4 linked regions of the Homo sapiens genome follow. The protein of the gene in region 3 purifies or fractionates together with the protein of the main gene of each other region. This does not show direct contact. Each region holds a gene or a part of one and is shown on either strand. Other genes may lie near its edges. The genes, in order: RANBP6, GHITM, VSIG1 and UBE4A.

The links.
Region 1: the proteins of VSIG1 (region 3) and RANBP6 purify together in Homo sapiens (co-immunoprecipitation; 3 studies listed by BioGRID and IntAct, with this or other methods). This does not show direct contact.
Region 2: the proteins of VSIG1 (region 3) and GHITM purify together in Homo sapiens (co-immunoprecipitation; 3 studies listed by BioGRID and IntAct, with this or other methods). This does not show direct contact.
Region 4: the proteins of VSIG1 (region 3) and UBE4A purify together in Homo sapiens (co-immunoprecipitation; 3 studies listed by BioGRID and IntAct, with this or other methods). This does not show direct contact.

Annotation. Positions count from the first base shown.
Region 1 is NC_000009.12:6,012,621-6,019,901, forward strand, and holds the start of RANBP6 (ran-binding protein 6), read right to left. Parts: upstream 3,005-7,281; 5' UTR 2,988-3,004; coding exon 1-2,987. UniProt on the Homo sapiens protein: May function in nuclear protein import as nuclear transport receptor.
Region 2 is NC_000010.11:84,149,494-84,154,086, forward strand, and holds the end of GHITM (growth hormone-inducible transmembrane protein), read left to right. Parts: intron 1-561; coding exon 562-750; intron 751-1,215; coding exon 1,216-1,387; intron 1,388-2,770; coding exon 2,771-2,855; 3' UTR 2,856-4,075; downstream 4,076-4,593. UniProt on the Homo sapiens protein: Plays an important role in maintenance of mitochondrial morphology and in mediating either calcium or potassium/proton antiport. Mediates proton-dependent calcium efflux from mitochondrion.
Region 3 is NC_000023.11:108,040,583-108,048,074, reverse strand, and holds the start of VSIG1 (V-set and immunoglobulin domain-containing protein 1 isoform 2 precursor), read right to left. Parts: upstream 3,011-7,492; 5' UTR 2,945-3,010; coding exon 2,896-2,944; intron 1-2,895.
Region 4 is NC_000011.10:118,354,724-118,362,620, forward strand, and holds the start of UBE4A (ubiquitin conjugation factor E4 A), read left to right. Parts: upstream 1-4,876; 5' UTR 4,877-4,951; intron 4,952-7,897.

The sequences.
Region 1 (7,281 bases), on a different chromosome or scaffold from region 3:
TTTACACAGTTAGGCTTAAACTTCAAAATCTTCCCTATTGCTGAGATACAGTTCTCTGTAGCAATGACATTTTTTTTGGTTTTGGAATTTGCACACTTAATAACTTTTACCAGAAGTGGAACAGCTTCTGAACATAAAGAACGATAATCATCTCCACCAAACTGTGCCATGACACCCAGGCCATAAGCAGCAGCTTGCCTGACTTCAGGGTTGTTATCTCGCATATTTAGTAGCATTGGCCACCGAAAATATTCTACATATTTAAATGAAGTTGGACTGCAGTGCTCTATGATGTCATCAAATATGCACAATCCCCACTGTCTGTCTGGCCATGGCCTACTTGAACAAATTAGATTTACAATTAATGGAAGTAGTTGTTCAAACCATGGTAAAATCTTTTCCTTATAAGTACTAAATAATGAGTGCAAAATATCTGATACTTTGGTCAGAATATAAACATCACATTCATCCTCATCTTGCAGAGACATCTCAACCTGTTGATCATAGTTTTCTTCCTGTCTTTTCACCTGTCTCAATTCTTGGTTTTTAAAGTGCCCTTCAAGTTTTGCTTTCAGTATTCCTCCCAGTTCTTCCAAGTGTTCATCATTAAGGCAACCATCTCCCATAACTTCAATGGACTTTGCAAAAGAATTCATTATTTCTGAGAGCACATCTGTATCTGGTTCAGTACCAATAGCCTTGATTAAGGGGTCACATATGAATTGCCACATCTGTGCAAGATACTCTGGGCCACGAATTCTTGCACATTCCAGGAGAAAAGGCATGGACTCTGCTGCTGCCACTCGAACATTGTCATGGAAATAAAATTTCAGTAAAGGAACCATCAGCTTCACAACTTGTTCTGTATATTCCACAAACCCTTCCCTTAACTCCTTAGCATAGTAAACCAACATTTGGCAAGCAGTTGCTTTTGCTTCAAGTCCTGAAGTTTTAATTCCAAAACTCTGCTGGTCTCCAAGATTTACAAATTGCCAGCCATCATCGTCACTCATATTTTCCACATCCTGTGTGTCTAAGAGAGCAACATCAGGTTTAGCTGAAGCAGTCTTAATAAGAGGCTCGATAACCAGTGGAAGGTACTGTTGAAAATCTTTTCCAAGAATTTTACACATTCTAGCCCATGCTGAAACCATGTAAGAGGTCTGAGGGTCATCATCTTCCATATTATTTAAGTCTGATTGTGTCTTCAACAACAGCTGCATCACATTTGATGCATCTTGCATAAATTTTTCCTTCCCAACAGCAAGACCAATATGGCTAATGCACTCGATAGTTTTTCCTCTCAGAAGCTTGAGTTCCTTCTGAACAGCAAGCTCAACAATGTGCTTTAGTGAGGGCATGAATATATCATAATATGGGACAAATTTTTCTTCTATTGTATCTGCAACTGATGCAATGGTTGTCACAAGTTGTTCCAAAGCCAACTTAGTTCCATTCCGAATCAACTCTTGAAGTTTAATCACCAAGACGGAATGTAGATTTTTCACCATACTATCCACATATAGAACTAGCAATGATTTAGGGCAGTCTTCAATAAAAATAATAAGAGCAGAAGCTGCATGTGATTGCACACGCTGATTACCTTGATTTTCCATGGTACGTAACAGAGCTGCAATCACTGTTTCATGAAATTTCTTTTGGAAATTAGGTGCAAAATCTGTAGCCATCTGTCCAAGTGTAGTACAGGCTGCAGCCCTCACCCTTGGATGAGGATCCTGAAGAAAAAGCAAAACGGAGTTAACTGTTTCATCTAGAATTGATTCCATTTGTTGATGGCATCCTTCTCCAATGGCAGATAAGGCCATTAATCCAGCATGTCGATACTTCCAGTCAGGGCTCTGAAGCATCTGCATGATATGCTCCTTGGTCATTGGTAAAACAACTTTTCCACCAAGCCCACAAGCCAGTCTGTCTAGTGCACTCTCCGCAGCAACTGCATTGCTGTCAAAATCATCTTCTTCCATTTCATCAGCATTTACCCAGTCCTCATCATCTTGTAGATCAACCATCATTGCTAATATATGAGGAACTGCCTGTGCAATAATATTTGTATGTTTTTTCAACATCGGAGTGGCAGTTTCAGACAAGGTCACTATAACTTCGAGGGCCAGCTGGCGCTGCAGATTACTAAGCCTAGAGTCTCCACATAACTTCAAACTCAACTGTAGAGTATCTTCTAAATAAGGACCCAAGTACTTAGGTACGGTATCTGCAATCTCAACAAGGGATTCTAGCACTGAATCATCATCCTGGTAGCATGAGTCATTCACAGCCTGTAAGATTCCAGGAAGCAAGTCTGCAAAGTCTTTGAAAAGAGCAATATTATTCTCATTAGCAAGTACAAATGCAGCTGCAGCTCTAGCGGATAATGTCCTGATTGCTGGATGTTCTTGATCTTGAATACACTGGTCCAACAACCGTTTGATGATATCCAAATCATGCCGCTCTTGGGTCCCAAAAATCCCAGGAAAGTGCCAGAAAACGTGAAGTGCAACTTCCCATAGAACCACATTTTTGGAGTAGATTGAATCAATAAGAAACTTCAGACCTTCCGGCCAGTGGTTAGTGCCATCCTCATCTATCAAATTCCTGGCCAGCACTGCAAAAATATCACAAAGTTTTTTCCTCATGCTAGCATGTGTTTCTAACTTAACAGCCAGAATCAGTTCAATCTTGACATCTCTCTGAACATCAGCAGGCAGATTTGGATAAACCTCCTCAAACCCAGAGGACAAAAGCCGTCGTAGCAGTGCGGCAGCCATTTGTCTCACCTCATAACCTGCTCTTCTATTTCTGACGGCATCTAAGAGGAAGGTAGTCTTACACAGACCTGGGATATTTTCATAGATTTCCTCTGCTTGCCTCCGCACCATACAGCTTGGATTGATCAGGTTCTTCAGAAGCTGGTAAAACTCTTGCTTTTCTGACACGGTCGCCGGCACCCCTGCAGACGCGGTTGCCGCCATTGCGCTCTGTCAAAGCTACCGCGACCGGGAAGGAGGGAGGGGGTCTGCGGCTCGAAGCAGTGACGTAGGCGAGGCGCCGGCGGGGATGGGCGGGGTGCTTCTCCCTCCTCTGCCCAGAAACTCTAGCTGCGCTCTGGCAGGCTGCGAGCTAGGTTTTGGAGAGAGGTGAGAGCCGTGTGGAGGCCAATGGCATCCTCCATTTGTTTTTCAATAAGATAAACGTGCACTTGCAGGCGAGAGAAGAAAAGCATTGATTAGAATGGGATCATGACTTTTTTTTTTTTTGGATACAAGGTCTGGCTGTGTCACCTAGGCTGGAGTATAGCGGCGCGATCCCTGCTCACTGCAGCCTCAACCTCCTGGGCTCAAGCGATCCTCCCCGCCTCAGTTCCCCCAGTAGCTGGGACCACAGGCGCGCGCCACCACGCCCGGCTAATTGTGTTTTTTATAGAGACAGGGTTTCGCCATGTTGCCCAGGCTGGTCTCGAACTCCTGGGCTCAGGTGATCTGCCCGCCTCGGCCTCCCGAAGTACTGGGAATACAGGTGTGAGCCACTGCTTCTGGTCAGATTATGAGTGATTTTTTTCTTTTATTTCTAAACTATATTGTTACTTTGATAATTTTAAAACAATAAGTCTATCTTGAAAACATGCCAAGTGAAAGAAACCAGTCACAACCACATATTGTATGATTCCATTTGTATGAAAGGTACCAAACAGGCAAATTGTATAACAGAAATTAGTGGTTGCCAGAGGTTGGGGGGAGGGGAGGATAGAGAATGACTGCTATCAAATAGGGTGTTTCTTTCTGAGTGATGAAATGTTCTAAAATTAATTGTGATGGTTGCACAATTCTGTGATTATACTAAAAACCATTGAGTTGTTAAATTTAAATTGGTGAATTGTATGGCATATAAATAATACTACAATAAAGCTTTATAAAATAATAAGTGTGATAATAAAATAATAATTACTTCCCCACTACCACATCTAATGCAGTAGAGTGGTAGCTCAAAATCTGGTGTGTGTCAGAATCACCTGGCCTGTTGGTTATAATAAAGAATGGGAAAGACAACTGAGTAAAGTATGGTAGAAAGTGATCTGAACTAATAATCAGAAGACAGACTTGCATCCTGGCCTTGTCACTAAATTAATTTTGTATCCTAGGACAAGTTACTCAAGATTTTCCTTGCATCTTGTCTAAACTGAAATATGAAGGGATGCGGTTAACTAGAATCCTAACTAACCATTAGTGGGAAGCTGCTGAGGTTATTCCAAGAAACAAATGTTGATGAAACTAAATTTGTTTCTTTTTTTTTTTTTTTTTTTTGTGAGATGGAGTCTCGCTCTGTCGCCAGGCTGGAGTGCAGTGGTGCGATCTCAACTCACTGCAACCTCTGCCTCCTGGGTTCAAGCAATTCTCCTGCTTCAGCCTCCTGAGTAGCTGGGACTATGGGCGCATGCCACCACGCCCAGCTAATTTTTGTATTTTAGTAGAGACGGGGTTTCACTATGTTTGGTCAGGATGGTCTCGATCTGTTGACCTCGTGAGAGATCACCCGCCTCGGCCTCCCACAGTACTAGGATTACAGGTGTAAGCAACCGCGCCTGGCCAGTTTGTTTCTTTAATTCAGGCAGGTGTGTCAATCAAAAACAAGTTTCATTCCTATAACAATGATTAGGTCTTACTTTTGTATTAGCACTTGCCACACTCATTTTGACCCTTATACAGAATTGAGAGATTGCTAGGATAGATATAATACTAAATTTAGGTGAGAAGTGGAAACTAAGGGAAGTTACAGGATTTGCCTAGGATGACACACCTGAGTCTCAATTCTACCTCTTCTGAAAGTGACACTGATGCTCTTTTCACCATATTGCTTCCCCATTAACTACTCTTGGTTTTGCAGCATGATCAGAGGCTTCACTTACTGCAAATTCTGTCTTAAACTTTTCCAAGCAGCCTTAATTTTGTTTTTGTAAAGTGCTGCCGCATATACCCACAAAAATTAGAAAGTCGTAGCTTTTACATTAACCAGATGATAGACAAAGTAGGTAGTCTCATAAATTACATTGTAGCCGAGCATGGTGGCTCACACCTGTAATCCCAGCACTTTGGGAGGCTGAGGCAGGCAGATCACGAGATCAAGAGATCAAAACCATTCTGGCCAACACGGTGAAACCCCGTCTCTACTAAAAGTACCAAAATTAGCTGGGCGTGGTGGCACATGCTTGTAGTCCCAGCTACTCGGGAGGCTGAGGCAGGAGAATCGCTTGAACCTGGGAGGCAGAGGTTGCAGTGAGCCGAGATTGCATCACTGCACTCCAGCCTGGCGACACAGCAAGACTCTGTCTCATAAAAAAGACACTGTAATATGAAACAGAGCTATTTTCTAAAATAGAATTTCTCATTCTGTAGACTGAAAACCAACTGCATTAGAATTGCTTGGGATACCTATTTTAAAATATAGATGTTAGGGCCCAAGTTCCTATTAACCCAGAATTCTGGGGGGACTGAGGACTAAGAATGTACAATTTCAACCAGCACATTGGGTTTTTATATAAATACCAACATTTGAGAATCGCTGATAAGATCAATTCTGGTTCTAAGATTATGACTACAGTTGTGCATTCATTGGTTTTCTTTCTTTCTTTGTTTTTTTTTTTTTTTTAGATGGAGTCTCGCTCTGTCACCTAGGCTGGAGGGCAATGGCACGATCTCAGCTCACTGCAACCTCTGCCTCCTGGGTTCAAGCAATTCTCCTGCCTCAGCCTCCTGAGTAGCTGGGATTACAGGCATGCACCACCACACCCAGCTAATTTTTATATTTTTAGTAGACACAGGGTTTCATCATGTTGGCCAGGCCGGTCTCAAACTTCTGACCTCAAGTGATCCACCTGCCTCAGCCTCCTAAAGTACTAGGATTACAGGCATGAGCCACCACACCTGGCCCATTCATTGGTTTTCTTACTGTTCCTTCAAAAAGTCTAACTGGAGGGACTTTGCATTTGCCGTTTCAGGAAATGTTAATAATAATTAATTAATTACTTAATACTATATCCACTAGCATATGAAAGACATTGAAAAAAACCACAGTGATACACCACCACAGACCTACCACAATGCTTTAAAAGTCTGACAAAGCCAAGGGTTGCTGAGGATGTGGAACAACAGGAAACTCAGTTATATTTTTGTTGAGAGTATAGGTAAATTGGTACAACCTCTTTGAAAAAAATGAGCTGGGCGCAGTGGCTCATGCCTGTAATTCCAGCACTTTGGGAGGCTATTGGGAGGCTAAGTTGGGCAGATCACCTGAGGTCAGGAGTTCGAGACCAGCCTGGCCAACATGGTGAAACCTCGTCTCTACTAAAAATACAAAAAATTTAGCTGGACTTGGTGGTGTGCGCATGTAGTCCCAGCTACTCAGGGAGGCTGAGGCAGGAAAATTGCTTGAACCCAGGAGGCGGAGGTTGCAGTAAGCCAAGATCACACCACTGCACTCCAGCCTGGGTGACAGAGGGAGACTCCATCTCAAAAAAAAAAAAAAAAGAAAAAAGAAAAAGAAAAAAATGTTTGAAAAATTCTGGGTTAAGATTATGCAATTATTTGGCCGGGTGCAGTGGCTCATGCCTGTAATCCCAGCACTTTGGGAGGCCGAGTTGGGCGGATCACAAGGTCAGGAGATTGAGACCATCCTGGCCAACATGGTGAAACCCCATCTCTACTAAAAATACAAAAATTAGCTGGGCGTGGTGGCGCGTGCCTATAGTCCCAGCTACTTGGGAGGCTGAGGCAGGAGAATTGCTTGAACCCGGGAGGCGCAGGTTGCAGTGAGCCAAGATTGTACCACTGCACTCCAGCCTGGTGACAGAGCGAGACTGCGTCTCAAAACAAAAAGAAAGAAAAAGAGTATGCAATTATTCAATTAGTCTCTCAGCAAGCATTCTTTGAGGGTACACTCAAGCATGGTGCTGAGTTGCTGGTATTAAAGACTAAATTCATGAAGATATGTGAATCTCATAGTAAACAGAGATAGTAAATGTCACATAGCGTAGTGATCACTGTAGTAATGATAAGCCTGCCATGGAGCCATATGGGGTTATGGAGGCAGCTAATTTACTCTGGGTATGGGGTTGATCAAGTAAGGCTTCCCAGAGGAGGTATCAGAGTTGACTTTTGAAGAATGAGTCCTCATTAACCATTTGAAAAGAGAGAAAGTTGTTCTAAGTAAAGGGTACAGCTTTTTCAGACACAGAGAGGCCTTCAGGTGTACTGTGATGAGAGTTCTGCCAGT
Region 2 (4,593 bases), on a different chromosome or scaffold from region 3:
TTCAATTAAGGAGTTCCATTTACCTTTGTTGAATTACTGGTAAATTTTTTACGAAATTGTTTATAAATATCTGACAACTAAAATTACTTATTTATAAGCTGTTAGCAGTCCTTATTACATAAAGAAACAGCAGTGTCTGTCTTAGAAGTTCCCACATTTTAAGTTTATCATCATATGCTTTCCCTTTTGACAGCAGTAGGTTTGACCTTGAGTTATTTGTTTTAAGCTTGTTTATCTCAATTATTATATGAATGTTGTAGAAACTAGTGGTAAGCTCAGATTCAAATAGCTACATGGAATTTGATGGTTACTAAATAAGTAGATTAGTGTTTGCTTGTGAGTGTGATTGATTAGGAATAGTGTTAATGTTGTGATATAGAATTTGAGTAGTCACCAATTTGGGCTGTAGAATTTGGTGGGGGTAGTATTATCTAAAGGCAGAACTTTTTGAATCATAGTGCTTAAACAGTAAGGTATAATATAAAGTGGCATGTTAGAAGTGATATTTTCCTTTTGCTTGTTATTTAGTAAATACTTAATGAGCACTTCCTCTTTCTCCAGGTGTGATGGGTGCAGTGGTGGCTCCTCTGACAATATTAGGGGGTCCTCTTCTCATCAGAGCTGCATGGTACACAGCTGGCATTGTGGGAGGCCTCTCCACTGTGGCCATGTGTGCGCCCAGTGAAAAGTTTCTGAACATGGGTGCACCCCTGGGAGTGGGCCTGGGTCTCGTCTTTGTGTCCTCATTGGGTAAGCTGCTGTGTTTTAACACTTAATTCTTGGTGCATAGTTTCCTGTAACCTGAAATACTCCAATATCCTAATTGATTGAGTCATTTATTTTAAAAGTTTTTTTAAAGATTTATGCTAATTTGACTGGATTTTACTACCTGACATCATATAAAAATCATGGCAACATGGTCAACCATTATTACTGGCTTTACCAAACACATCTAAAATGGGAAAGTTGGTCTGGAGAACATGAATATTGCTCTGATGCAAGAACCTTCCTGTGAAATGGGCAAGTGGCTCATTGGAGGAATGAGTATCATGGATTTTGAACTAATGCAAATAAGATTAGACAGTACATGTACCCAGATGTCGTCTTACCTACACAGTATACCAAGGAGATTTTTTTTTAAGTAATATAAATCATAAACTCAGTTATCGGAAATCCTTTTTTAAAAAAAATCTTGTTTTCGCATTTTGATTTCAGGATCTATGTTTCTTCCACCTACCACCGTGGCTGGTGCCACTCTTTACTCAGTGGCAATGTACGGTGGATTAGTTCTTTTCAGCATGTTCCTTCTGTATGATACCCAGAAAGTAATCAAGCGTGCAGAAGTATCACCAATGTATGGAGTTCAAAAATATGATCCCATTAACTCGTAAGTAATGCTTTTTATTTAACACTGTTACTCTGTCACATAAGGATGCTTGTGTGTATTTGACCTGTTTTGGTTTATGGCTGTATTAGTTTTCTAGGGATACTGTTAACAAAGTATCGCAGACTGGGTGGCTTAAAACAAAACTTGATTCTCTTGTAGTTCTGGAGGCCAGAAATCTAAAATCAAGGTGTTAGCAGAGTTGTACTTCTGAGGGCCCTGAGGGAAAATCTGTTCCCTGCCTCTCAGCTTCTTGTTACTGCTGGCAGTCCTTGACATTCCTTGGCTTGTAGATGGATCATTCCAGTCTCTGTCTCCATCTTCACATGGTGCTCTTCCTGTGTACCAGGGATTAGGATTTCATTATATTTTGTTGGGGGGCAGAGGAGGGTCACAGCTCAAACCACACCAATGGCTTTGTCAGATTTCCTGTTTTACTTCTGTTGCAGTTTTGTCTGTTCTCTCTTTAGTAAACTATCCAAAAAAACCTCTTGATTTTATTGCAACTTAGTGTAATACTTAGGTATTCATTCCATTATCAGAATATTTTGTCTATTTTTGTGAGCCAGTGTCAGGGTGCAATAAATAATGTGCTCTTACTGCTCAGTTAATTTTTTTGGTAGTGTATTTTGCAGACTTTAAAACTGAAGAAATGTATTAATCAAGTATTATTTATTGGAAAATGTATATAATTGACATGGAATTTTTAATAGAAAAGCCTATTTTATACTTCTAGAAATTAGAAACTCTTCAGTATAAAGAGTCTAGTTTCAGAGATATGCAACTTTAGTTGGTATTAATTGTTATTATGTTTTTTTCTTTTTTCTTGGAGTCGACCAAAGTGGGTTATTTTATTTAAACAATTTTCTTGAGTTTCATTGTGTCTGTCACATTTTTTTAAAGTAATTTGATTTTATCTAAAAATAAAACTTAATGTAATGGTTTAGGGGGAAGAAAAAGTTGCTGTACTGTAAAGCTTACAGATTTGTAGAAGTTTTCTTTAGAGGGGTGAAGTGGGTCTTTTATATTAAAAAATGCTAGACTTGTGTCTAACAGGTTTTTATAAAGGTGTTTCTTTGGTCTTGTTTTGATTATTTCATTGTCTGCCACCTAGTTTTCTTTGCAAGTTGATATATGCAGAGTGTCAGAGAATAAAATAATGATTTTTTTAAACTGCTCTTTAACATTTAAAAGATGAGTCTGCCAAAAGGAAGACCTTAACTATTTTCTAGTCTAGTACTTCATTAGTTGGCAGTTAAACATCTTATTTTTAATTTCCATTTTATATCACTAAGACAAATAGTATTTTTCTTCTTTTCTATATTAAGAATTCAACATCACTATTAGAATTGCATCATATATAATGGGCATAATTTTCTTTTCTAGGATGCTGAGTATCTACATGGATACATTAAATATATTTATGCGAGTTGCAACTATGCTGGCAACTGGAGGCAACAGAAAGAAATGAAGTGACTCAGCTTCTGGCTTCTCTGCTACATCAAATATCTTGTTTAATGGGGCAGATATGCATTAAATAGTTTGTACAAGCAGCTTTCGTTGAAGTTTAGAAGATAAGAAACATGTCATCATATTTAAATGTTCCGGTAATGTGATGCCTCAGGTCTGCCTTTTTTTCTGGAGAATAAATGCAGTAATCCTCTCCCAAATAAGCACACACATTTTCAATTCTCATGTTTGAGTGATTTTAAAATGTTTTGGTGAATGTGAAAACTAAAGTTTGTGTCATGAGAATGTAAGTCTTTTTTCTACTTTAAAATTTAGTAGGTTCACTGAGTAACTAAAATTTAGCAAACCTGTGTTTGCATATTTTTTTGGAGTGCAGAATATTGTAATTAATGTCATAAGTGATTTGGAGCTTTGGTAAAGGGACCAGAGAGAAGGAGTCACCTGCAGTCTTTTGTTTTTTTAAATACTTAGAACTTAGCACTTGTGTTATTGATTAGTGAGGAGCCAGTAAGAAACATCTGGGTATTTGGAAACAAGTGGTCATTGTTACATTCATCTGCTGAACTTAACAAAACTGTTCATCCTGAAACAGGCACAGGTGATGCATTCTCCTGCTGTTGCTTCTCAGTGCTCTCTTTCCAATATAGATGTGGTCATGTTTGACTTGTACAGAATGTTAATCATACAGAGAATCCTTGATGGAATTATATATGTGTGTTTTACTTTTGAATGTTACAAAAGGAAATAACTTTAAAACTATTCTCAAGAGAAAATATTCAAAGCATGAAATATGTTGCTTTTTCCAGAATACAAACAGTATACTCATGATTGCTAAGTGTTTTTTTATTTTTGCATATTTATTGAACTGTCTAATTGAATACAGCTTGCTCTTGTCACCTCTTCAAGCTTTCAAGCCTTTATAGAAAAGCTTCTTTGTGGCTTACACTGGAAATTATGAAAGCAGTTTTTCTCCTAAGACTTTTGGTTTCTCGCATTGCCTCTCAGACTAAGCACTAAAAAGCAAAGCAAAACAGAACTAGTTCTGTCTTAATGAAATATATCAACCCAAAAGTGTAATGAGGAAAATGCTTCATTAGTTTCCCCTAGCAGACTTTTACTTCTCTTACACTGCTACACCATTACTTTCTTGAGACATTTGTAAGTTCTTTGATACAGAAGAGTTATATTTAGAAGTCTTTAATGAAGGGAAAGAAGTCTGTATGATGACTGAGGTGATTGCTCTTTTTGACAAATGTTTATTACAGTAATGCAGAAATACTGTTAATCATCTCAAAGTACATAGGAGGCTTATTTCTGAAACAAAGGTTTCAGCCAGATGTTGATTAGTCTAATTTTTCCAAGTGAATCATATGCATGCCATTTGAATAGGGATTTCTTCAAGAAAGCAACTTAGTTTCTTGCCAGTATAGTATAGTGCAGTGTGATAAGTACATGATACTTGTAGCTAGACTACCTCTATTTGAATCTCAACTCTTATTTCTTATGTGACCTTGGGCAAATTACTTAACCTCTGTGTGCCCAGTTTCCTCTCCTGTAAAATGAATATATTGGAACCTGTCTTATAGGTTTATGGTTAAACGTGCAGGCACTTAGTAAGCATTACATAAGTCTTAGCTATTGATGCTTTTTTTTATTAGTAAAAATGTAAATGCCAATTTTCTATTTTTCTTCTCCCCATCCTGATACCCATATCAGTGTGATCTTAAAGTGCCTGTTTT
Region 3 (7,492 bases):
CCGAGATCGTGCCATTGCACTCCAGCCTGGGCAACAAGACTTAACTTCGTCTCAAAAGAATATATATATGTGTATATATATATATATATATATATATATATATATATATATATGTGTGTGTATATATATATATATATGTGTATATATATATATGTGTATATATATATGTGTATATATATATATGTGTGTATATATATATATGTGTATATATATATGTGTATATATATATGTATATATATATGTGTATATATATGTATATATATATGTATATATATATATATATAGAGAGAGAGAGAGAGAGAGAGAGAGAATGTCTTGTATTTTGGTGGTGATTGTTCATTCATTTAATGCCTACAAGGTGGCAAACATTTTGCTTATAGAAGGATTATTATCCTCCTAATGTACCACAGCAAAATATCCCCCAAATATTCATATTTAATCTGATAGATTTGAAGTGATTTAATTTCCAGCAACTTCATATATAATAGATTCATTTTGACTTAGGAAATAATATAATCAAATGATCACTCACTTTTTTGGATTTGAGTGCAAACTCAAAGTTCAAATATATTACTCCTTTAAAATGCATAGCATATACCTCCAGAAAATGAAACCCACATTAACATATCTTTCTAAGAGGTGACTAATACATATTTCAAATACCTAAAATGATATGCATAAATTTTTTGCAGAAGTTTGATTAAAACTCGTTTTCCTGAATTAGAATTTAACCTAAGAATTCCTAAGAAGTCATTGAAAATATTTTGATTTAAGCAAAATCTGACCTGTTTAGTTATATCAAAATCAATTTTAAATATGTATGTGAAAATGATGTCTGGATGTTTGGAATTTGGGAAAGTAATTCATTCTTTCAACAAACATTTACTATGCATCCACTATGTGTTAGGCACCACGCTTAACACCAAAAAGTGACATTCTCTCCAAAACAAGTCCAGGAAGAACATCAAATTGCACATTGATGGAAACACTATCAGTTGTCCAGATCAACTGATGAACACTGCTAATGACAGGTGTAGATTACTAAAGTGATCCTTTCTCTGACTTCAATACATATGTAAGCACAGCAAACGACAATAGAGCATACCACAATTTGCTGTACTGACACTACTGCTTTGGGCCAACTAGATAATATGTGTGTAGATATATAGTGTACACTATATACCAACAAAATCAGTTATATAGTAACTTAGGAAACACACTCTGAAGTATTTATTGGTCTTGTTCTAAAAGTCACAATAAAATAAAATCCTGACATGATGCTAAACAATTTTTTTAAACAATAAAAAAGTATACAAGGAATAAACCCAATTTTTAAAATGTAATATATACACCTGCAAATAAAAGAATAATAATTCACCCAAATCTGAGTGGTAAAATTGCAGATGATTTTTATTTTATTTTAAATTTCCATATTTCCAACCTTTCTACAATGACCATGCATTACATTTATAATCAGTAAAAATTACTTGTATGTTAGGTACAGTTAAAAAAAAAAAAAACTGTTCTTAACAACCGTTCCAAACCCTGTGCCTAGTATGGGCCAGGGCAAGGCTTCACATAGGGAAACAGGTATGATCTTAGAGGGCTGATGCAGAAGGCCCAGGGGTCGACCCAACTGGCTAATGACTGGAAACCCTTTAAGAAGAGACAAAACTTCCATATCTAAAGTTACATTTAAATGAATATGCCTGGGGAGAAGGGAAAATAGGAACATGTGTTTCCAGCTCTAGGGCCTAGTTAGGTCACTGGACAAATGGAGTATTGCCTTCTGGTGATGTTTAACTCCATAAAACATCTATGCTTAAACATTTAGTAATGAACATTTAAAGAACTATTTCTAAACATGAGATCACTTTGAAAAGTAACACTTTTTTCTAATTATAAAAATAGCATAATGTTCTTCGTAGAAAACCCAGGAAGTATGAAAAGCTGGGAAATAAAATTAAAATCATCTATAATCCCATCACCCAGAGGCAACCACCATGAGCACTTCGGTATATAACCTTCTAGTAATTTATTCTAGGCATATGTGTGCATCCTGCTTTTTCACTTAATATTTTATCGTGGGTATTTTCTTATGTCATTAATACGCCTAGTAAACCTCATTCTAACCACTGCCTAATATTACTAATGGCTTGAAAATCCTGTTTTTGGATAAACAATATTATTGTATTTACTATGGACCTAACTTATAAGAACAGATGCAAAATGTATCTGATATTTGAAAACTACCCAAGGGATTTTTGGAATTAATGATCTCTCCTGGATCTAACTAACATCAGTATTTTGATTCCAAAATTGATTTTCTTCTGTTCAGATACCTAAAATCACCCATGTTGTGCACCATAAATCACTCACATATTTTGCAAAATACAGTCTTAGGATTGGAAAACCACAACTCCTTAAGAAATATTAGACAGTAAAGTACTCAGTAAATTTCTGTTCTTCCCATATGTAAGCCAGGGCAGGCCCTCCAACCCAGGCTCTGCCTGCTAGAGCAAGTCAATCACTGAGCTTAAAGGAAACACTAAAGTAAGTAAAACAGAGACAAAATTATCCCTAGCACAAAGTTTGGTTTCTGAGTAAATTCATTTTTTTCACTTTTCAAAGTAAGTAAAGTAATAAACTATATTTTTTTCTGAGAAAATTTTCATTCAGAAGCTCCATAAAACAATAATATTATGGGCTTACACCCCTAATATATCAGCATGGCATATGTTTGCTAAGCAAGAGTTCTGAAAATTAACTCATCATACTAATCACAATTCATTTGAAGTACAGGAGATGAAAATTCTATGTAAAAATGTGGAATTTTTATTTAAAAGGAAACTCTGTTTCCAATTATATTTGGTGGTTTGGAGATCCTTTCCTTACCTGCAAGGCAGCTTAGGATCAGAAAGACCTTCCAAAATGCGAACACCATTGTGTGGAGGTTAGTTGAGAGCAGCAGGTGCCAGTAGCTTGCCTGGACTAGGCTGAGTCTCAAATTGGCTTCTTCGATCACACCGAGGTTTGCCTGGCTTATCTGCTGGGCATCGCCAAGCAAACATGCCTCTTTGGGCTTACTTATTGCGTATAGACTTTTTTCAGTACAGATTTGTGTTTCTTTGAAACACTTTTCATGGGGCGTGTTTCCTTGATATATTTGCTACTGTGTTAATAATAAACCCACGCATTTAAATTATTCAAGCTCCTTGTACACAGATTCTCTAAGTCTCATTGTTTAAAATCAATCTTACTAAAACGTTGTACTTGGGCTGGGGGATATGGTTGGAAGAGAGCCTATGCAAATAAAAGCTGACAAGGCTAATTAATTTCAAATATTTCCATGAGTCTTACAGAATTGATTCACTAACCTCCTTTTACAAATTAAGTTAGTAAATTGGTACTATATCGTTTCCTGGGGAGATGGGGCTCACGGGAAGGGCACAGGGGTTATGAAGCTAAAAAGCATTCATTTCTGTGTGAACAAACTCTGGATATGTTACTCTTTTTTGAAACACTGGCAGTTGTCACTACCCTCCACCAAAACTAGCAGTAAAATGATTTACATGCTTTTGTCTGTCGGGTTAGAAACCTTATAGCACGTATTTGCTAACGTAATTTTGCAAAATCAAGTTAGTGAATACATGCTTAAAGACTTTCTTTGGAGAAGTCTGATTTTTTGGAGAATTAAGATACTCAGTAAATGCTATAGGGTTTCCTTAGAAATGGAGGTTCACCAGGAGGGCATGGGAGGCTCCACAGGTAAGGAACTTTCATGGGAACATGAACTTCTAATAGTGTTCCTATTATGCTTAAGTTACCCGGAGAAACCTAAGGACTTTCTCTGGCTCTTCCCATGTGATTTCTAAGTCCTATCATTTCCATCTCCACAGCGACTTTCAGATGTGTTCTTTCTCCAATCTGCTGCTTCCATCTTGGTCCAGGTACTCAGCTTCCCACTTTGGCCTATCATAGCAGCTTCCTAAGTGGTCTCCCTGACTTATTCCACCTTCATCCTGTGTGCCAGCCGCAGGCCAATGTTCCAGCCCTAGTGAAATATTTCCAGTAACACCATAAATGGACTCTTTCATCAAATCCAAAGTCCTTAATATGGATTCCCATTCTTCCAATATCTGATCCTCACCTCATCTGAACTTTAGCCACATTAACTCATGCCCCTGAAAAAGTATGTCAAGATTTATTGCCTCAAAGTGTTCAGTCACATGAAATGTGTACAAATTTCAAGTGATATGTTTTATGTTCCTGTCTTTAATTTACAGGAAATGTTTGACCCCATCTTACTTTAGCCATTCCAATCTCCCACTGCTTCTTAGAAAGCCATTTTGCTTCCATCATGCCTGATTCCTCCTTGCAGCCTATCCTGTCCATGCTCATGTCTGATGCCAAACGTTGGCTCCAGGTGATTTCCATCACTAGAGTTTTCTTCTTCCTCCTCTTACTAGCCAAGTATATTCTTAGCATAGATCAGTCATACTGTCCTATGTGAGAATTTCAATGAACCGACATACCACCCTAGCATAAATTTCCATTTTACTTAAAGCCAATATCCTACAGCTGACCATTGATTATTCTCCAGTAGTTTCGCATTTATTAACTGGTCTACCTTAAATCTAGTCACTGTGAATCCCTCCAGGGTAGGGACCATGTCTTATACAGGCAGTTCCCAACTTTAAAATGAGCGTGTCCCAAGATGTAATGGTAAACTCGTTGACTGCACGCAAGAACTCCTGCAGAAGCAATGTTATAATATGAGTCTCACTGTCAGGCATGTAGCACATAATCTAGCACTGGCTTGAATTCTGCGTACTGGGCCGTATAAGGCAGTGGAGGGTGAGGAGGAACAGCAGGTGACAGAGAAAGAACGTTCCTTTCATTTCCCAAGATATGACTTGTGCACAAATCAACATTTTCCCCCAAATAACTATTGCATGTCTCTGACATCCACCTTCTCTTCTGCCTCCCACCTTCACGGCCCCCTGGCTCCTGGGTCCCTAGTTTGCCCTAAGGGAGAGTCTCATTCCCCAGAATATCTCATGCTCCAAAATTACTTTTTCCTTTTCACCTCTATTCCTCCCAGAAACCCTCCCTTTCCCCTGTATAAGCAGACAGCAGCTCCATGTTAGGAAGGGAAAAAAAAACGTTTCATTGAACATTCTCCAACCTGTTTGTGCTATTAAAAATACAGTGCTTACTTTCCTCACATAAATCTCTGACCAGGAGAATTAGGCAATGCAATAAAGAGAAATAGTTTGAGGGAGAAGATTTTGCAAAGGAGGACAACTTGTAGGGTGGGTCTCTGGAGATCCATACCACCTTTTCTCAGGCTTGGTTCTGCCTTGACTTCTAAGTCCACCAAGTCTCTAAAAGACCCATAGTTTTCACAATGCCCCCCACCCTGGAAGTAATACCGGTAGTTCCAGTGGTGAGGACGTGGGATGGGGAGCGAAATTTATAAGTCTGGCATTTGTAAGCCAGAAGCTTCCTGTGTTTCCTTCCATGCCCCATAAGTGATTATAGTAGTGTGACCATTGATCATTAAAACTAGGACACTTTTGAAAGTGAAAGGGGCACTATTAGCAATTACCTGGGAAAGACAGCATAAACAGTAACAGTGCCAGACAAACCTGGGTGTCTGGTTACCTACCCACAGGGGATTACTAGGCACAAAGTAGGTGCTAAGTAAGAGCTTGCTAATTAATTCAGTATGTCTGAGTTGGTTGGCCCTAAGATGAGTGCAGCAGAGGGTATGATTTAAGGATATTGCCCAAACCCATCTGCACCAAAATCTGTTGTGCAAACACAAAACACTCTGGAATATTTAAGTAAAATATCTATACTGCTGCTATGTAAGACCTAACCAGGACAGGAAGAATTCTGTTATAACAAACTCTAAAAGAGAATTTAAACTCTCTGCTTGGACCTGGATTTTGATGTTATTAACTATTGCTTAAAAAGTGGGTCATTAACTAGGACACGAAATATTAAATATCCTTTGCAGTTTTATAGAGCTTTATAATTTTTAAACTAATTTTCCATTTTATCTTTGTAGCTTTCCAATACAACAAATAAATCAGGTATACCTACATTTTCTATATAAGAAAACTGAGGCTCAAAAGTGCTGTGCTTTTCCCAAGGTCACCATAGCACGCATTAGAAGCTGTTCCTATCACACCACACAATGGCACGGTGTGATTGTAATGTAACAAATATGCTACTGCCCCCAGTATTCTTCCTTGGGAACTTTCAGAAATATGTGATATCTGATTTATCCCTCATTTTTAACTTAAAAATTACAAAAGTAATACATTTTGATAGTAAATGGTTTTCAAAGGACAAACAAGGATACAGAGGAAAAAAAGTCCCATTCATTCACTCACACATGTAATCCCTTTCCCAGGCTCACATGGAACAGGAGTTTAGCATTTTTCTCAGACCTTTTTCTATGCATGTACACATGCACAAACACACACACACACACACACACACACACACACGAGGTTTTTTAAAACATAAAGATGATAATACTGTACATTTTGTTCTATAATTTGCTTTTCTCCCTTAAAAAAGGTATTTTTATTCTCTCTTTCTGTCACTGGGTCCAACTGCATCTATAGATCAACCTTGTCCATGTTAAGGCTGCATGGTATTTCATGATATGAATGTACCTCAATTTATTTAATCATTCTCTTATTGGTAAATTCTTAGATGGTTTCCAGTTTTTCAATATTATTGACAATGGTTCAATGAACATGTAGCTTTCCAATACAACAAATAAGTCAGGTATACCTACATTTTCTATATAAGAAAACTGAGGCTCAAAAGTGCTGTGCTTTTCCCAAGGTCACCATAGCACGCATTAGAAGCTGTTCCTATCACACCACACAATGGCACGGTGTGATTGTAATGTAACAAATATGCTACTGCCCCCAGTATTCTTCCTTGGGAACTTTCAGAAATATGTGATATCTGATTTATCCCTCATTTTTAACTTAAAAATTACAAAAGTAATACATTTTGATAGTAAATGGTTTTCAAAGGACAAACAAGGATACAGAGGAAAAAAAGTCCCATTCATTCACTCACACATGTAATCCCTTTCCCAGGCTCACATGGAACAGGAGTTTAGCATTTTTCTCAGACCTTTTTCTGTGCATGTACACATGCACAAACACACACACACACACGAGGTTTTTTAAAACATAAAGATGATAATACTGTACATTTTGTTCTATAATTTGCTTTTCTCCCTTAAAAAAAGTATTTTTATTCTCTCTTTCTGTCACTAGGTCCAGCTGCATCTATAGATCAACCTTGTCCATGTTAAGGCTGCATGGTATTTCATGATATGAATGTACCTCAATTTATTTAATCATTCTCTTATTGGTAAATTCTTAGATGGTTTCCAGTTTTTCAATATTATTGACAATGGTGCAATGAACATCCTTTTGTCAAGATCTGCCCACTT
Region 4 (7,897 bases), on a different chromosome or scaffold from region 3:
TGAGTGTCCTGTCTTGTGTTTATTAACCATTCATATATTTTTAGTGAAATGTGTATCAAATCTTTTGCCCATTTTTAAGTTGACTTATTTGTTTGTCTTCTTACTATTGGGTTGCATATGTTTTTGATATAAGTCCTTTATCAGATATATGATTTGGAAATATTTTCTACCAATCTGTGGTTTGTTTTTCTTAATGGTGTCTTTTGAAGTGCAAAAGGTTTGAATTTTGAAGTACATTTTATTGATTTTTTCTTCTATATATTGTGCTTTTGGTATCATGTCTAATAAATCTTTACCAAACCCACAGTTACAAAGATTTTCTCCTGTCTTCTTTTTATACTTTTTACAGCTTTATGGTTTTAGCTCTAACAATAAATGTGATTTTGAACATACATAAGACTATTTGTAACAAACACAAATAAATTGAATTGTTGGGCACTTGTATTTGCATTTGTAATTTTATTAACTATTGCCAAATAGCAGTTGTAAACACGTACACACACACAAGTGTATATACACATATACATATATATACATATACATGTATGCATATATGCATATATACATATATGCATATATACACATATATACATATATACACATATACATATATGCATATATACACATATATACACATATACATATATGCATATATACACATATATACATATATACACATATACATATATGTATATATACACATATACGTATATGTGTATATATACACATATACGTATATGTATATATACATATATGTATATGTATATATACACATATACACATGTATATATACACATATACACATGTATATATACACATATGTATATATACACATATACACATATGTATATATACACATATACACATATATACACATATGTATATATACACATATACATATATGTATATATACACATATGTATATATACACATATACATATATGTATATATACACATATACATATATGTATATATACACATATACATATATGTATATATACACATATACACATATACACATACATATATGTGTATCTACACATATACACATATACACATATACGTATACGTGTATATACGTAGATACACATATACATATATACACACGTGTGTATATACGTATATACACAAGTGTGTATATACGTATACACACATATATGTGTGTGTATACGCATACACACATATATGTGTGTGTATACGCATACACACATATACGTATATATGACAGGGTCTTGCTCTGTTGCTAAGGCTGGAGTGCAGTGGCACAACATTGGCTCACTGCAGCCTCGACTGCCCAGGCTCAAGCAATCCTCCCACCTCAGCCTCCTGAGTAGCTGAGATTTCAGGCGTGTGCCACAATATCCAGCTAATTGCTTAATTTTTTTTATAGAGAGAGGGTCTCACTATGTTGCCCAGGCCAGTCTCAAACTCTTGGGGTCAAGTGATCCTCCCATCTCATCCTCCCAAAGTGCTGGGATTACAGGTGTGAGCCACTGTGCCCAGCCAGGTTGTACCAATATACACTACCAATAACAACAAACAAAAGTGCCTGTTACTCCATACATGTTCCAACAGTGTATTATTAAACTTTTGAATCATGCCAAACTGAATGGCTTCTCACTATAATTTTAGTTTACATTTTTCTTATTAAAAATTGGAGGCTAGGTGTGGTGGCTCATACCTGTAATCCCAACACTTCGGGAGGCCAAGGCAGGTGGATCACCTGAGGCCAGTAGTTTGAGACCAGCCCAGCCAACATGGCAAAACCCTGTCTCTACTAAAAATACAAAAAATTAGCTGGGTGTGGTGGTGGGTGCCTGTAAACCCAGCTACTCAGGAGGCTGAGGCAGGAGAATTGCTTGAACCTGGGAGGTGGAGGCTGCAGTGAGCTAAGATTGCACCATTGCACTCTAGCCTGGACAACAAGAGTGAAACTCCGTCTCAAAAAAAAAAAAAAAAAAAAAAAACTGGAGTAAACCATTTGTTTTTCCTTCTCATGATACATAAGTTCACATCTTTGGTCTTTTTCTTATTGACTTACACTAACCCCTTACATATTTGGGAAACTAGGTCTTTTGTGATATTAGTTGCAAGTCTTTTTCCAACTTTATGTGTTTTTTAACTTTGCTTTAAAAAACACATTGGTTAGTTTTTCACGCACACTTTACAATTATTTGCATGTAGTATAATTCACTGGTCTCCTATGGTCTCTAGGTTACGTTTCATATTTAGAAAGTCTTTCTCCATTTTAAAATTATCCTTTTTTAAAAGTTCCCCCATGAATTCCTCTAGCATTTTTATGGTTTTATTTTATGCATTTATATCTTTGACCCATCTCGAATTGATTTTAGCATCAGATCTAATGTAGTAACCAACTTTAAATACAGATAGTTACCCAGCTATTCCAGAAATATTATTGAATGATTCATTTTGCGTCCATTAATTTTAAATGCTGTTACAACCCCACTCGCCAGATTATAAGCTCCAAGAAGGAAAACACTTACGTTTTTTCACTATGGTATCCTTAGGAACTAGAACAGTGGTAGGCACACAAAGATTGCCCAGGGCTTTTTGTGTGTGTGTGGTAAAAGATATGTAACCTAAAATTTACCATTTTAACCTTTTTTTTTTTTTTTTTTGAGACAGAGTCTCACTCTGTCATCCAGGCACTCTAGCGCAGTGGCACGATCTCGGCTCACTGCAACCTCTGCCTCCCAAGTTCAAGCGATTCTCCTGCCTCAGCCTCCCAAGTAGCTGAGATTACAGGCGCACATCCACATGATCAGCTAATTTTTGTATTCTTAGTAGAGACAGGGTTTCACCATGTTGACCAGGCTGGTCTTGAACTCCTGACTTCAAGTGATCTGTCCACCTCGGCTTCCCATAGTGCTGGAATTACAGGCATGAGCCACTGCACCCAACCCCATTTTAACTATTTTTAAGTGTACCATTCAATGGCATTAAATATATCCACAATGTGTAGCCATCATCACTACCCATTTCAGAAATTTTTCATCCTCCTAAACAGAAACTTGGTACCCATTAGACAATAACTCCCATTCGCCTCTCCCTCCAATCCCTGGTGACCTCTATTATACTTTCTCTCTCAAGGAATGTGCCTATTCTGTGTACCACATATAAACTGAATCATACACTATTTAGTCCTTTCTGTCTGGCTCGTTTCAGTTAGCATAACGTTTTCAAGGTTCATCAATGTTTCAGCGTGTATCAGAACTTCATTCTTTTTCAAGGCTGAATAAGTCATCTGTAGCTATATACCATATTTTGTTTATGCATTCATCTGTTAATGAACATTCTGGGTTATTTCTACCTTTTGGTTATTATGAATAGTGCTACTGTAAATATATGTATACAAGTATCTGAGTTCCTGCTTTCAGTTATTTTGAACATCTATATCAAAGCGGAATTGCTTGATCATGTGGTTATACTATGTTTAACTTTTTGAGGAATCATCAAACTGTTTTTCCAAAAAGTCTGGACTATTTAACATTGCCATCAGCAACGCATACGGTTTCAATTTCTCCACATCTGCCAACAATTACTTTCCTTTTTTTTTATAGTAGCCATCCTAGTAGGTATTAAGTGGTATCTCATGATTTTTTTTTTCATTTCCCTAAAGACTAGTGGTGTTGAGCACTCTTTCATATGCTTATCCACCATTTGTACAGTTGGCCTTCCATATCTGTGGGCTCTGCATCTGTGGCTTCAACCAACCATGAATTGGAAATATTCCAAAACAAATTTCATCTGTATTGAACATGTACAGACTTTTTGTCATTATTCCCTAAACAATACAACACTATTTAGATTTATGTTGTATTAGGTATTATAAGTGATCTAGAGATGACTTAGTCATCTCTAGGATGACACAGGAGGATGTGCATAGGTTATATGCAAATACTGCATCATTTTATGTAAGGAACTTGAGCATCCTTGGATTTTGGTACCCAAGGGGGTCCTGAAACAAATCCCCCACAGATACCAAGTGGATAGTCATTCTCTTGGAATGTATCTTCTTTGGAGAAATGTCTATTCAAGTCCTTTGCCCTTTTTTGAACTGAACTGTTTGGGGGTTTTTCGTTCTTGTAGTTCTTTACATATTCTAGAGATGAATCCTTTATCAGATATATGAGTTGCAACTATTTTCTCTCAATCTGTGAATTTTCACTTGCACAGCGCTTTTAACTCTTGAAAATTATGCTGCTTCTATTATTTATGTGTATCCCGATCTCTTGCCCTCGTGACCCGCCCGTCTCAGCCTCCCAAAGTGCTGGGACTACAAGGCGTGAGCCACTGTGCCTGGCCATCTATGTGTATCTCAAAACAACCTTGTAGGATGTATACTGTCTCCACTTTACAGATAAGAAAACTGAAATCCAATCAAAGATAGCACACTCCAAAGATTGCTCCAAAGACAGCACAACAATAACAAACTTGTAGTTGTTATTGCTGTTAGTGTTATCCCTTTGAATAATAGAGAGTAACAGAAGCTGCTTCAAAAAGGTCTAGGACTGGTGGGAAAATAAGAGAGCAGACCCCCAACAGAGGTTGCGAGCAGAGCCAGGGATCACAGAGTTTTATCTGCCCTCGGTACGCTGATTTCCAAAACCCAGCCTCATATTCTATACTCCAAAGCGCACTGCCAGGTGGGCCAACTCCAGCCCCCACAATCCGATGCCAAGGCCACTTCTTGCCACTTCCTGCCCGCCTCCAGCCCGCCCCTAACAAGCTAGCGCATGCGCTGTAGGACTATTTGCGCGCCGTTCCCCCCGGTGAGCCTGCACACCGTGCTTCCGGCGCGGAGATGAACTTCCACATGCCCCGGCGCTTGTTGATGACGTAACTTCCGGTTGCTGTGCTGAGTCGGAAGTGGGAACCCTTCGGCCGCTGAGATTCTGTCGTGTCGTCGCTGCTGGCACTTCAGGCTCTGGTAAGACAGGCAATAGCTTCAGGGGACGGGGTCGTTGACTTTGCGTTGTGATATTTTCTGCTGGTCCAATGCCACTTCAAGCCTGTTCACTCTTATCTTCTCCAAATTCCTTCTCCTATGCTTTGCTAACCAGGGACCTTCTCCTTCTTGAACTTCGACCCTGTCTGATTTGGAACCCCTTACAGTGCCCCAGCTTCTGATGTCTCTTTGTACATTTCTGTCCCCATCTTTGCCAAGCCCCTCCTGGAAGAGGCCGGAGCGCTATCATTGCATTATCTTTTGACTTAACTTTCTCTAGAACGTGCCCCGGGCGGGTGGATCTCCCTCCTTCCCGCGAATCCCTTATGGAGCATGGAAGGATAAAATATAAAGAGTAGATAACAAATAGGCAGATGCCAAGAAGATAAGATTAATCGTGAGTCGTAAGCAAACCAGTTCAATGCATACGTCAGGGTGTTGATAATTCTTAAGGCAGGTGATGAGTTCACCACAGATAACTCTTGGGGCACTCTGCTTCATGTTTCCTTGGGTTTAGAAGACACTTCTAAAATTGAGTGACCATGCCTCATGACCTTATATTTGATGAGCCTTCCTTTTAGGATCAGTTTTATGCCCTGACAGCAAGCATGTGTTTAGTCTCGCTGTCATTTACTGTTTTGGTCTCACGTGGAAGCCCACCTGCGATAAAATGGGATCCAAGAAGGACTGCTGTCTGCTTTTTGACTTGAGATCCTTCTAGGCTGCAGATAGATGTGTTGATGGAATTTGTTGCCACATTAGCATGGCCTGATAGTGTTAGGTGAAACATACGACAACGAAAATTGTTTCTTAATTTCTATTTTAAATTGATATTTTAATTTCTATTTTATATTGATATATGTATTATTTGCCAGGACACAGACCTTATGGGAGTATGATTTGATAGAGCTTGATTTTGACGATCCCAGTTTTACAAAGTGTTCCAGATATTTCTGTTGAAAAACAATACCAAGTCTGATGTTAACACACTTGTGTGTTCATGAGAGCTGACAGTGGTCTTAAAGGATTAGTGGTACTATTCATAAACAAAAGCTTGTATTAGGAGGAAGTGACAGAATTTTGTAGGACAGCTATTATAGATATAGATCTTTGCAGCAAGTGTATCAGAGTGAAACTTGTTTTCAAGGAGGATATATTTTAAAAGAATCAAATCCAAAAGCTTCTAAGGTTGGTAGCTGTACCATCCCAAAGTGTCTGACAACAGGATAGTGTTGTATCTCTGTATGGCAGTTGAAAATAGGAAAAAAAATACATACATATATGTATGTATATATGTGTGTGTGTGTGTGTGTGTATTTTTTTTTTTTTTTTTTTGAGACAGAGTCTGGCTCTGTCACCCAGGCTCTGCTCTGGAGTGCAGTGGCACGATCTCAGCTCACGGCAACCTCCATCTCCCAGTTTAAAAGTGATTCTCCTGCCTCAGCCTCCCAAGTAGTGGGATTACAGCCTGGCTAAGGTGTGGTGGTATGCGCCTGTAATCGCTTTTAGTGGAGACGGGGTTTCACCACATTGGCCAGGCTGGTCTCAAACTCCTGACTTCAAGTGATCTGTCTGCCTTGGCCTCCCAAAGTGCTGGGATTACAGGCATGACCTACTGCGCCCGGCGCTGAAAATAGGAGATTATAAATCCCGAATGACATTATTGAATATTAAACAAAATATTTAGGTTTCATTTTATCGGACCTTTAGAGTGGGTGATTATCTGGGTACTCTTACTTTGGTAAGTCCATTGAACAAATCTAAACTGGCATCTCCACAAAGGTTCTCATCAAGTGATCAGTCCTCCTTTTTCCTGTAAAATTTTTCTATAAGTGACTACACAGTTTTAGCCCTTTTTTAATGAAAAAAAGTTTGTGCACAGATTTGACATACGTGTGAAAAAGATGAGCTTAGTGAAAGATAGGTGAGAACCTTTTTGTTTTTTACAGATAGTAGAGATGACAACAGAGACTTATTTCCATCCACCATTCTACACATGCCAAGATACCAAAGAACCAGTGTCTAGCCTGGTAGCTTGACCTTCCACTGCAACCTAAGACAAGTAGTAAAGCCCTTACCTTGAAGTAGGGTCATGGGTGATGCTGTTGATTACAAGGAGTTCAGAAAGAACTACATGTAAGATTGAAGCCATTCAATAACTACTTATTTAGGATTTTGTGATTGTGATGTATAATGCCAGACACAGAAGAAAGAATAATCAGATATGAACATGTAATCAGAAGAGCTTACAGCCTAGCAATGTAGAAGATCTGCTTAGAAATACAATGCAGAAAGTTTAAAATCCTAGTAAAAATAGAGGTAAAATGTAGAAAGCTAGTTTCTTTATACAGTGCAACAGTATAGTATTGAGAAAGAAGGAAGTAATGCAGTTTATGGTGATAAATTCTTTTTGTTTCTCTTGATAGTCTTTTTGTTTGTTTGTTTGTTTGAGACAGTTTCCCTCTGTTGCCCAGGCTGGAGTGCAGTGGCAACGATCTTGTCTCACTGCAACCTCCGCCTCCCAGGTTCAAGCAATTCTCCTGCCTCAGCCTCCTGAGTAGCTGAGATTCCAGGTGCACGCCACCATGCCTGGCTAATTTTTTGTGTGTTTTAAGTAGAGATGGGGTTTCTCCATGTTGGTCAGGCTGGTCTTGAACTCCTGACCTCATGATCTGCCCGCCTTGGCCTCTCAAAGTGCTGGGATCATAAGCATGAACCACTGTGCCCGGCCTTCTTGATAGTCTTAAGAGCTTCTCTGTCATATGTCCTATATTCCTGGCTTTCAGCTTCCTTTCTGCTTACGTGTTGCAGGTGATGCATGTCCTTTGTAATAATCTGGACACTTTTCAGTTGTGTTTTAAAAAACATCAAACTGGTTTAGGCATTTAGGGAAATTTTATTGGTTTTTATAACTGAAAAGTCCAGACT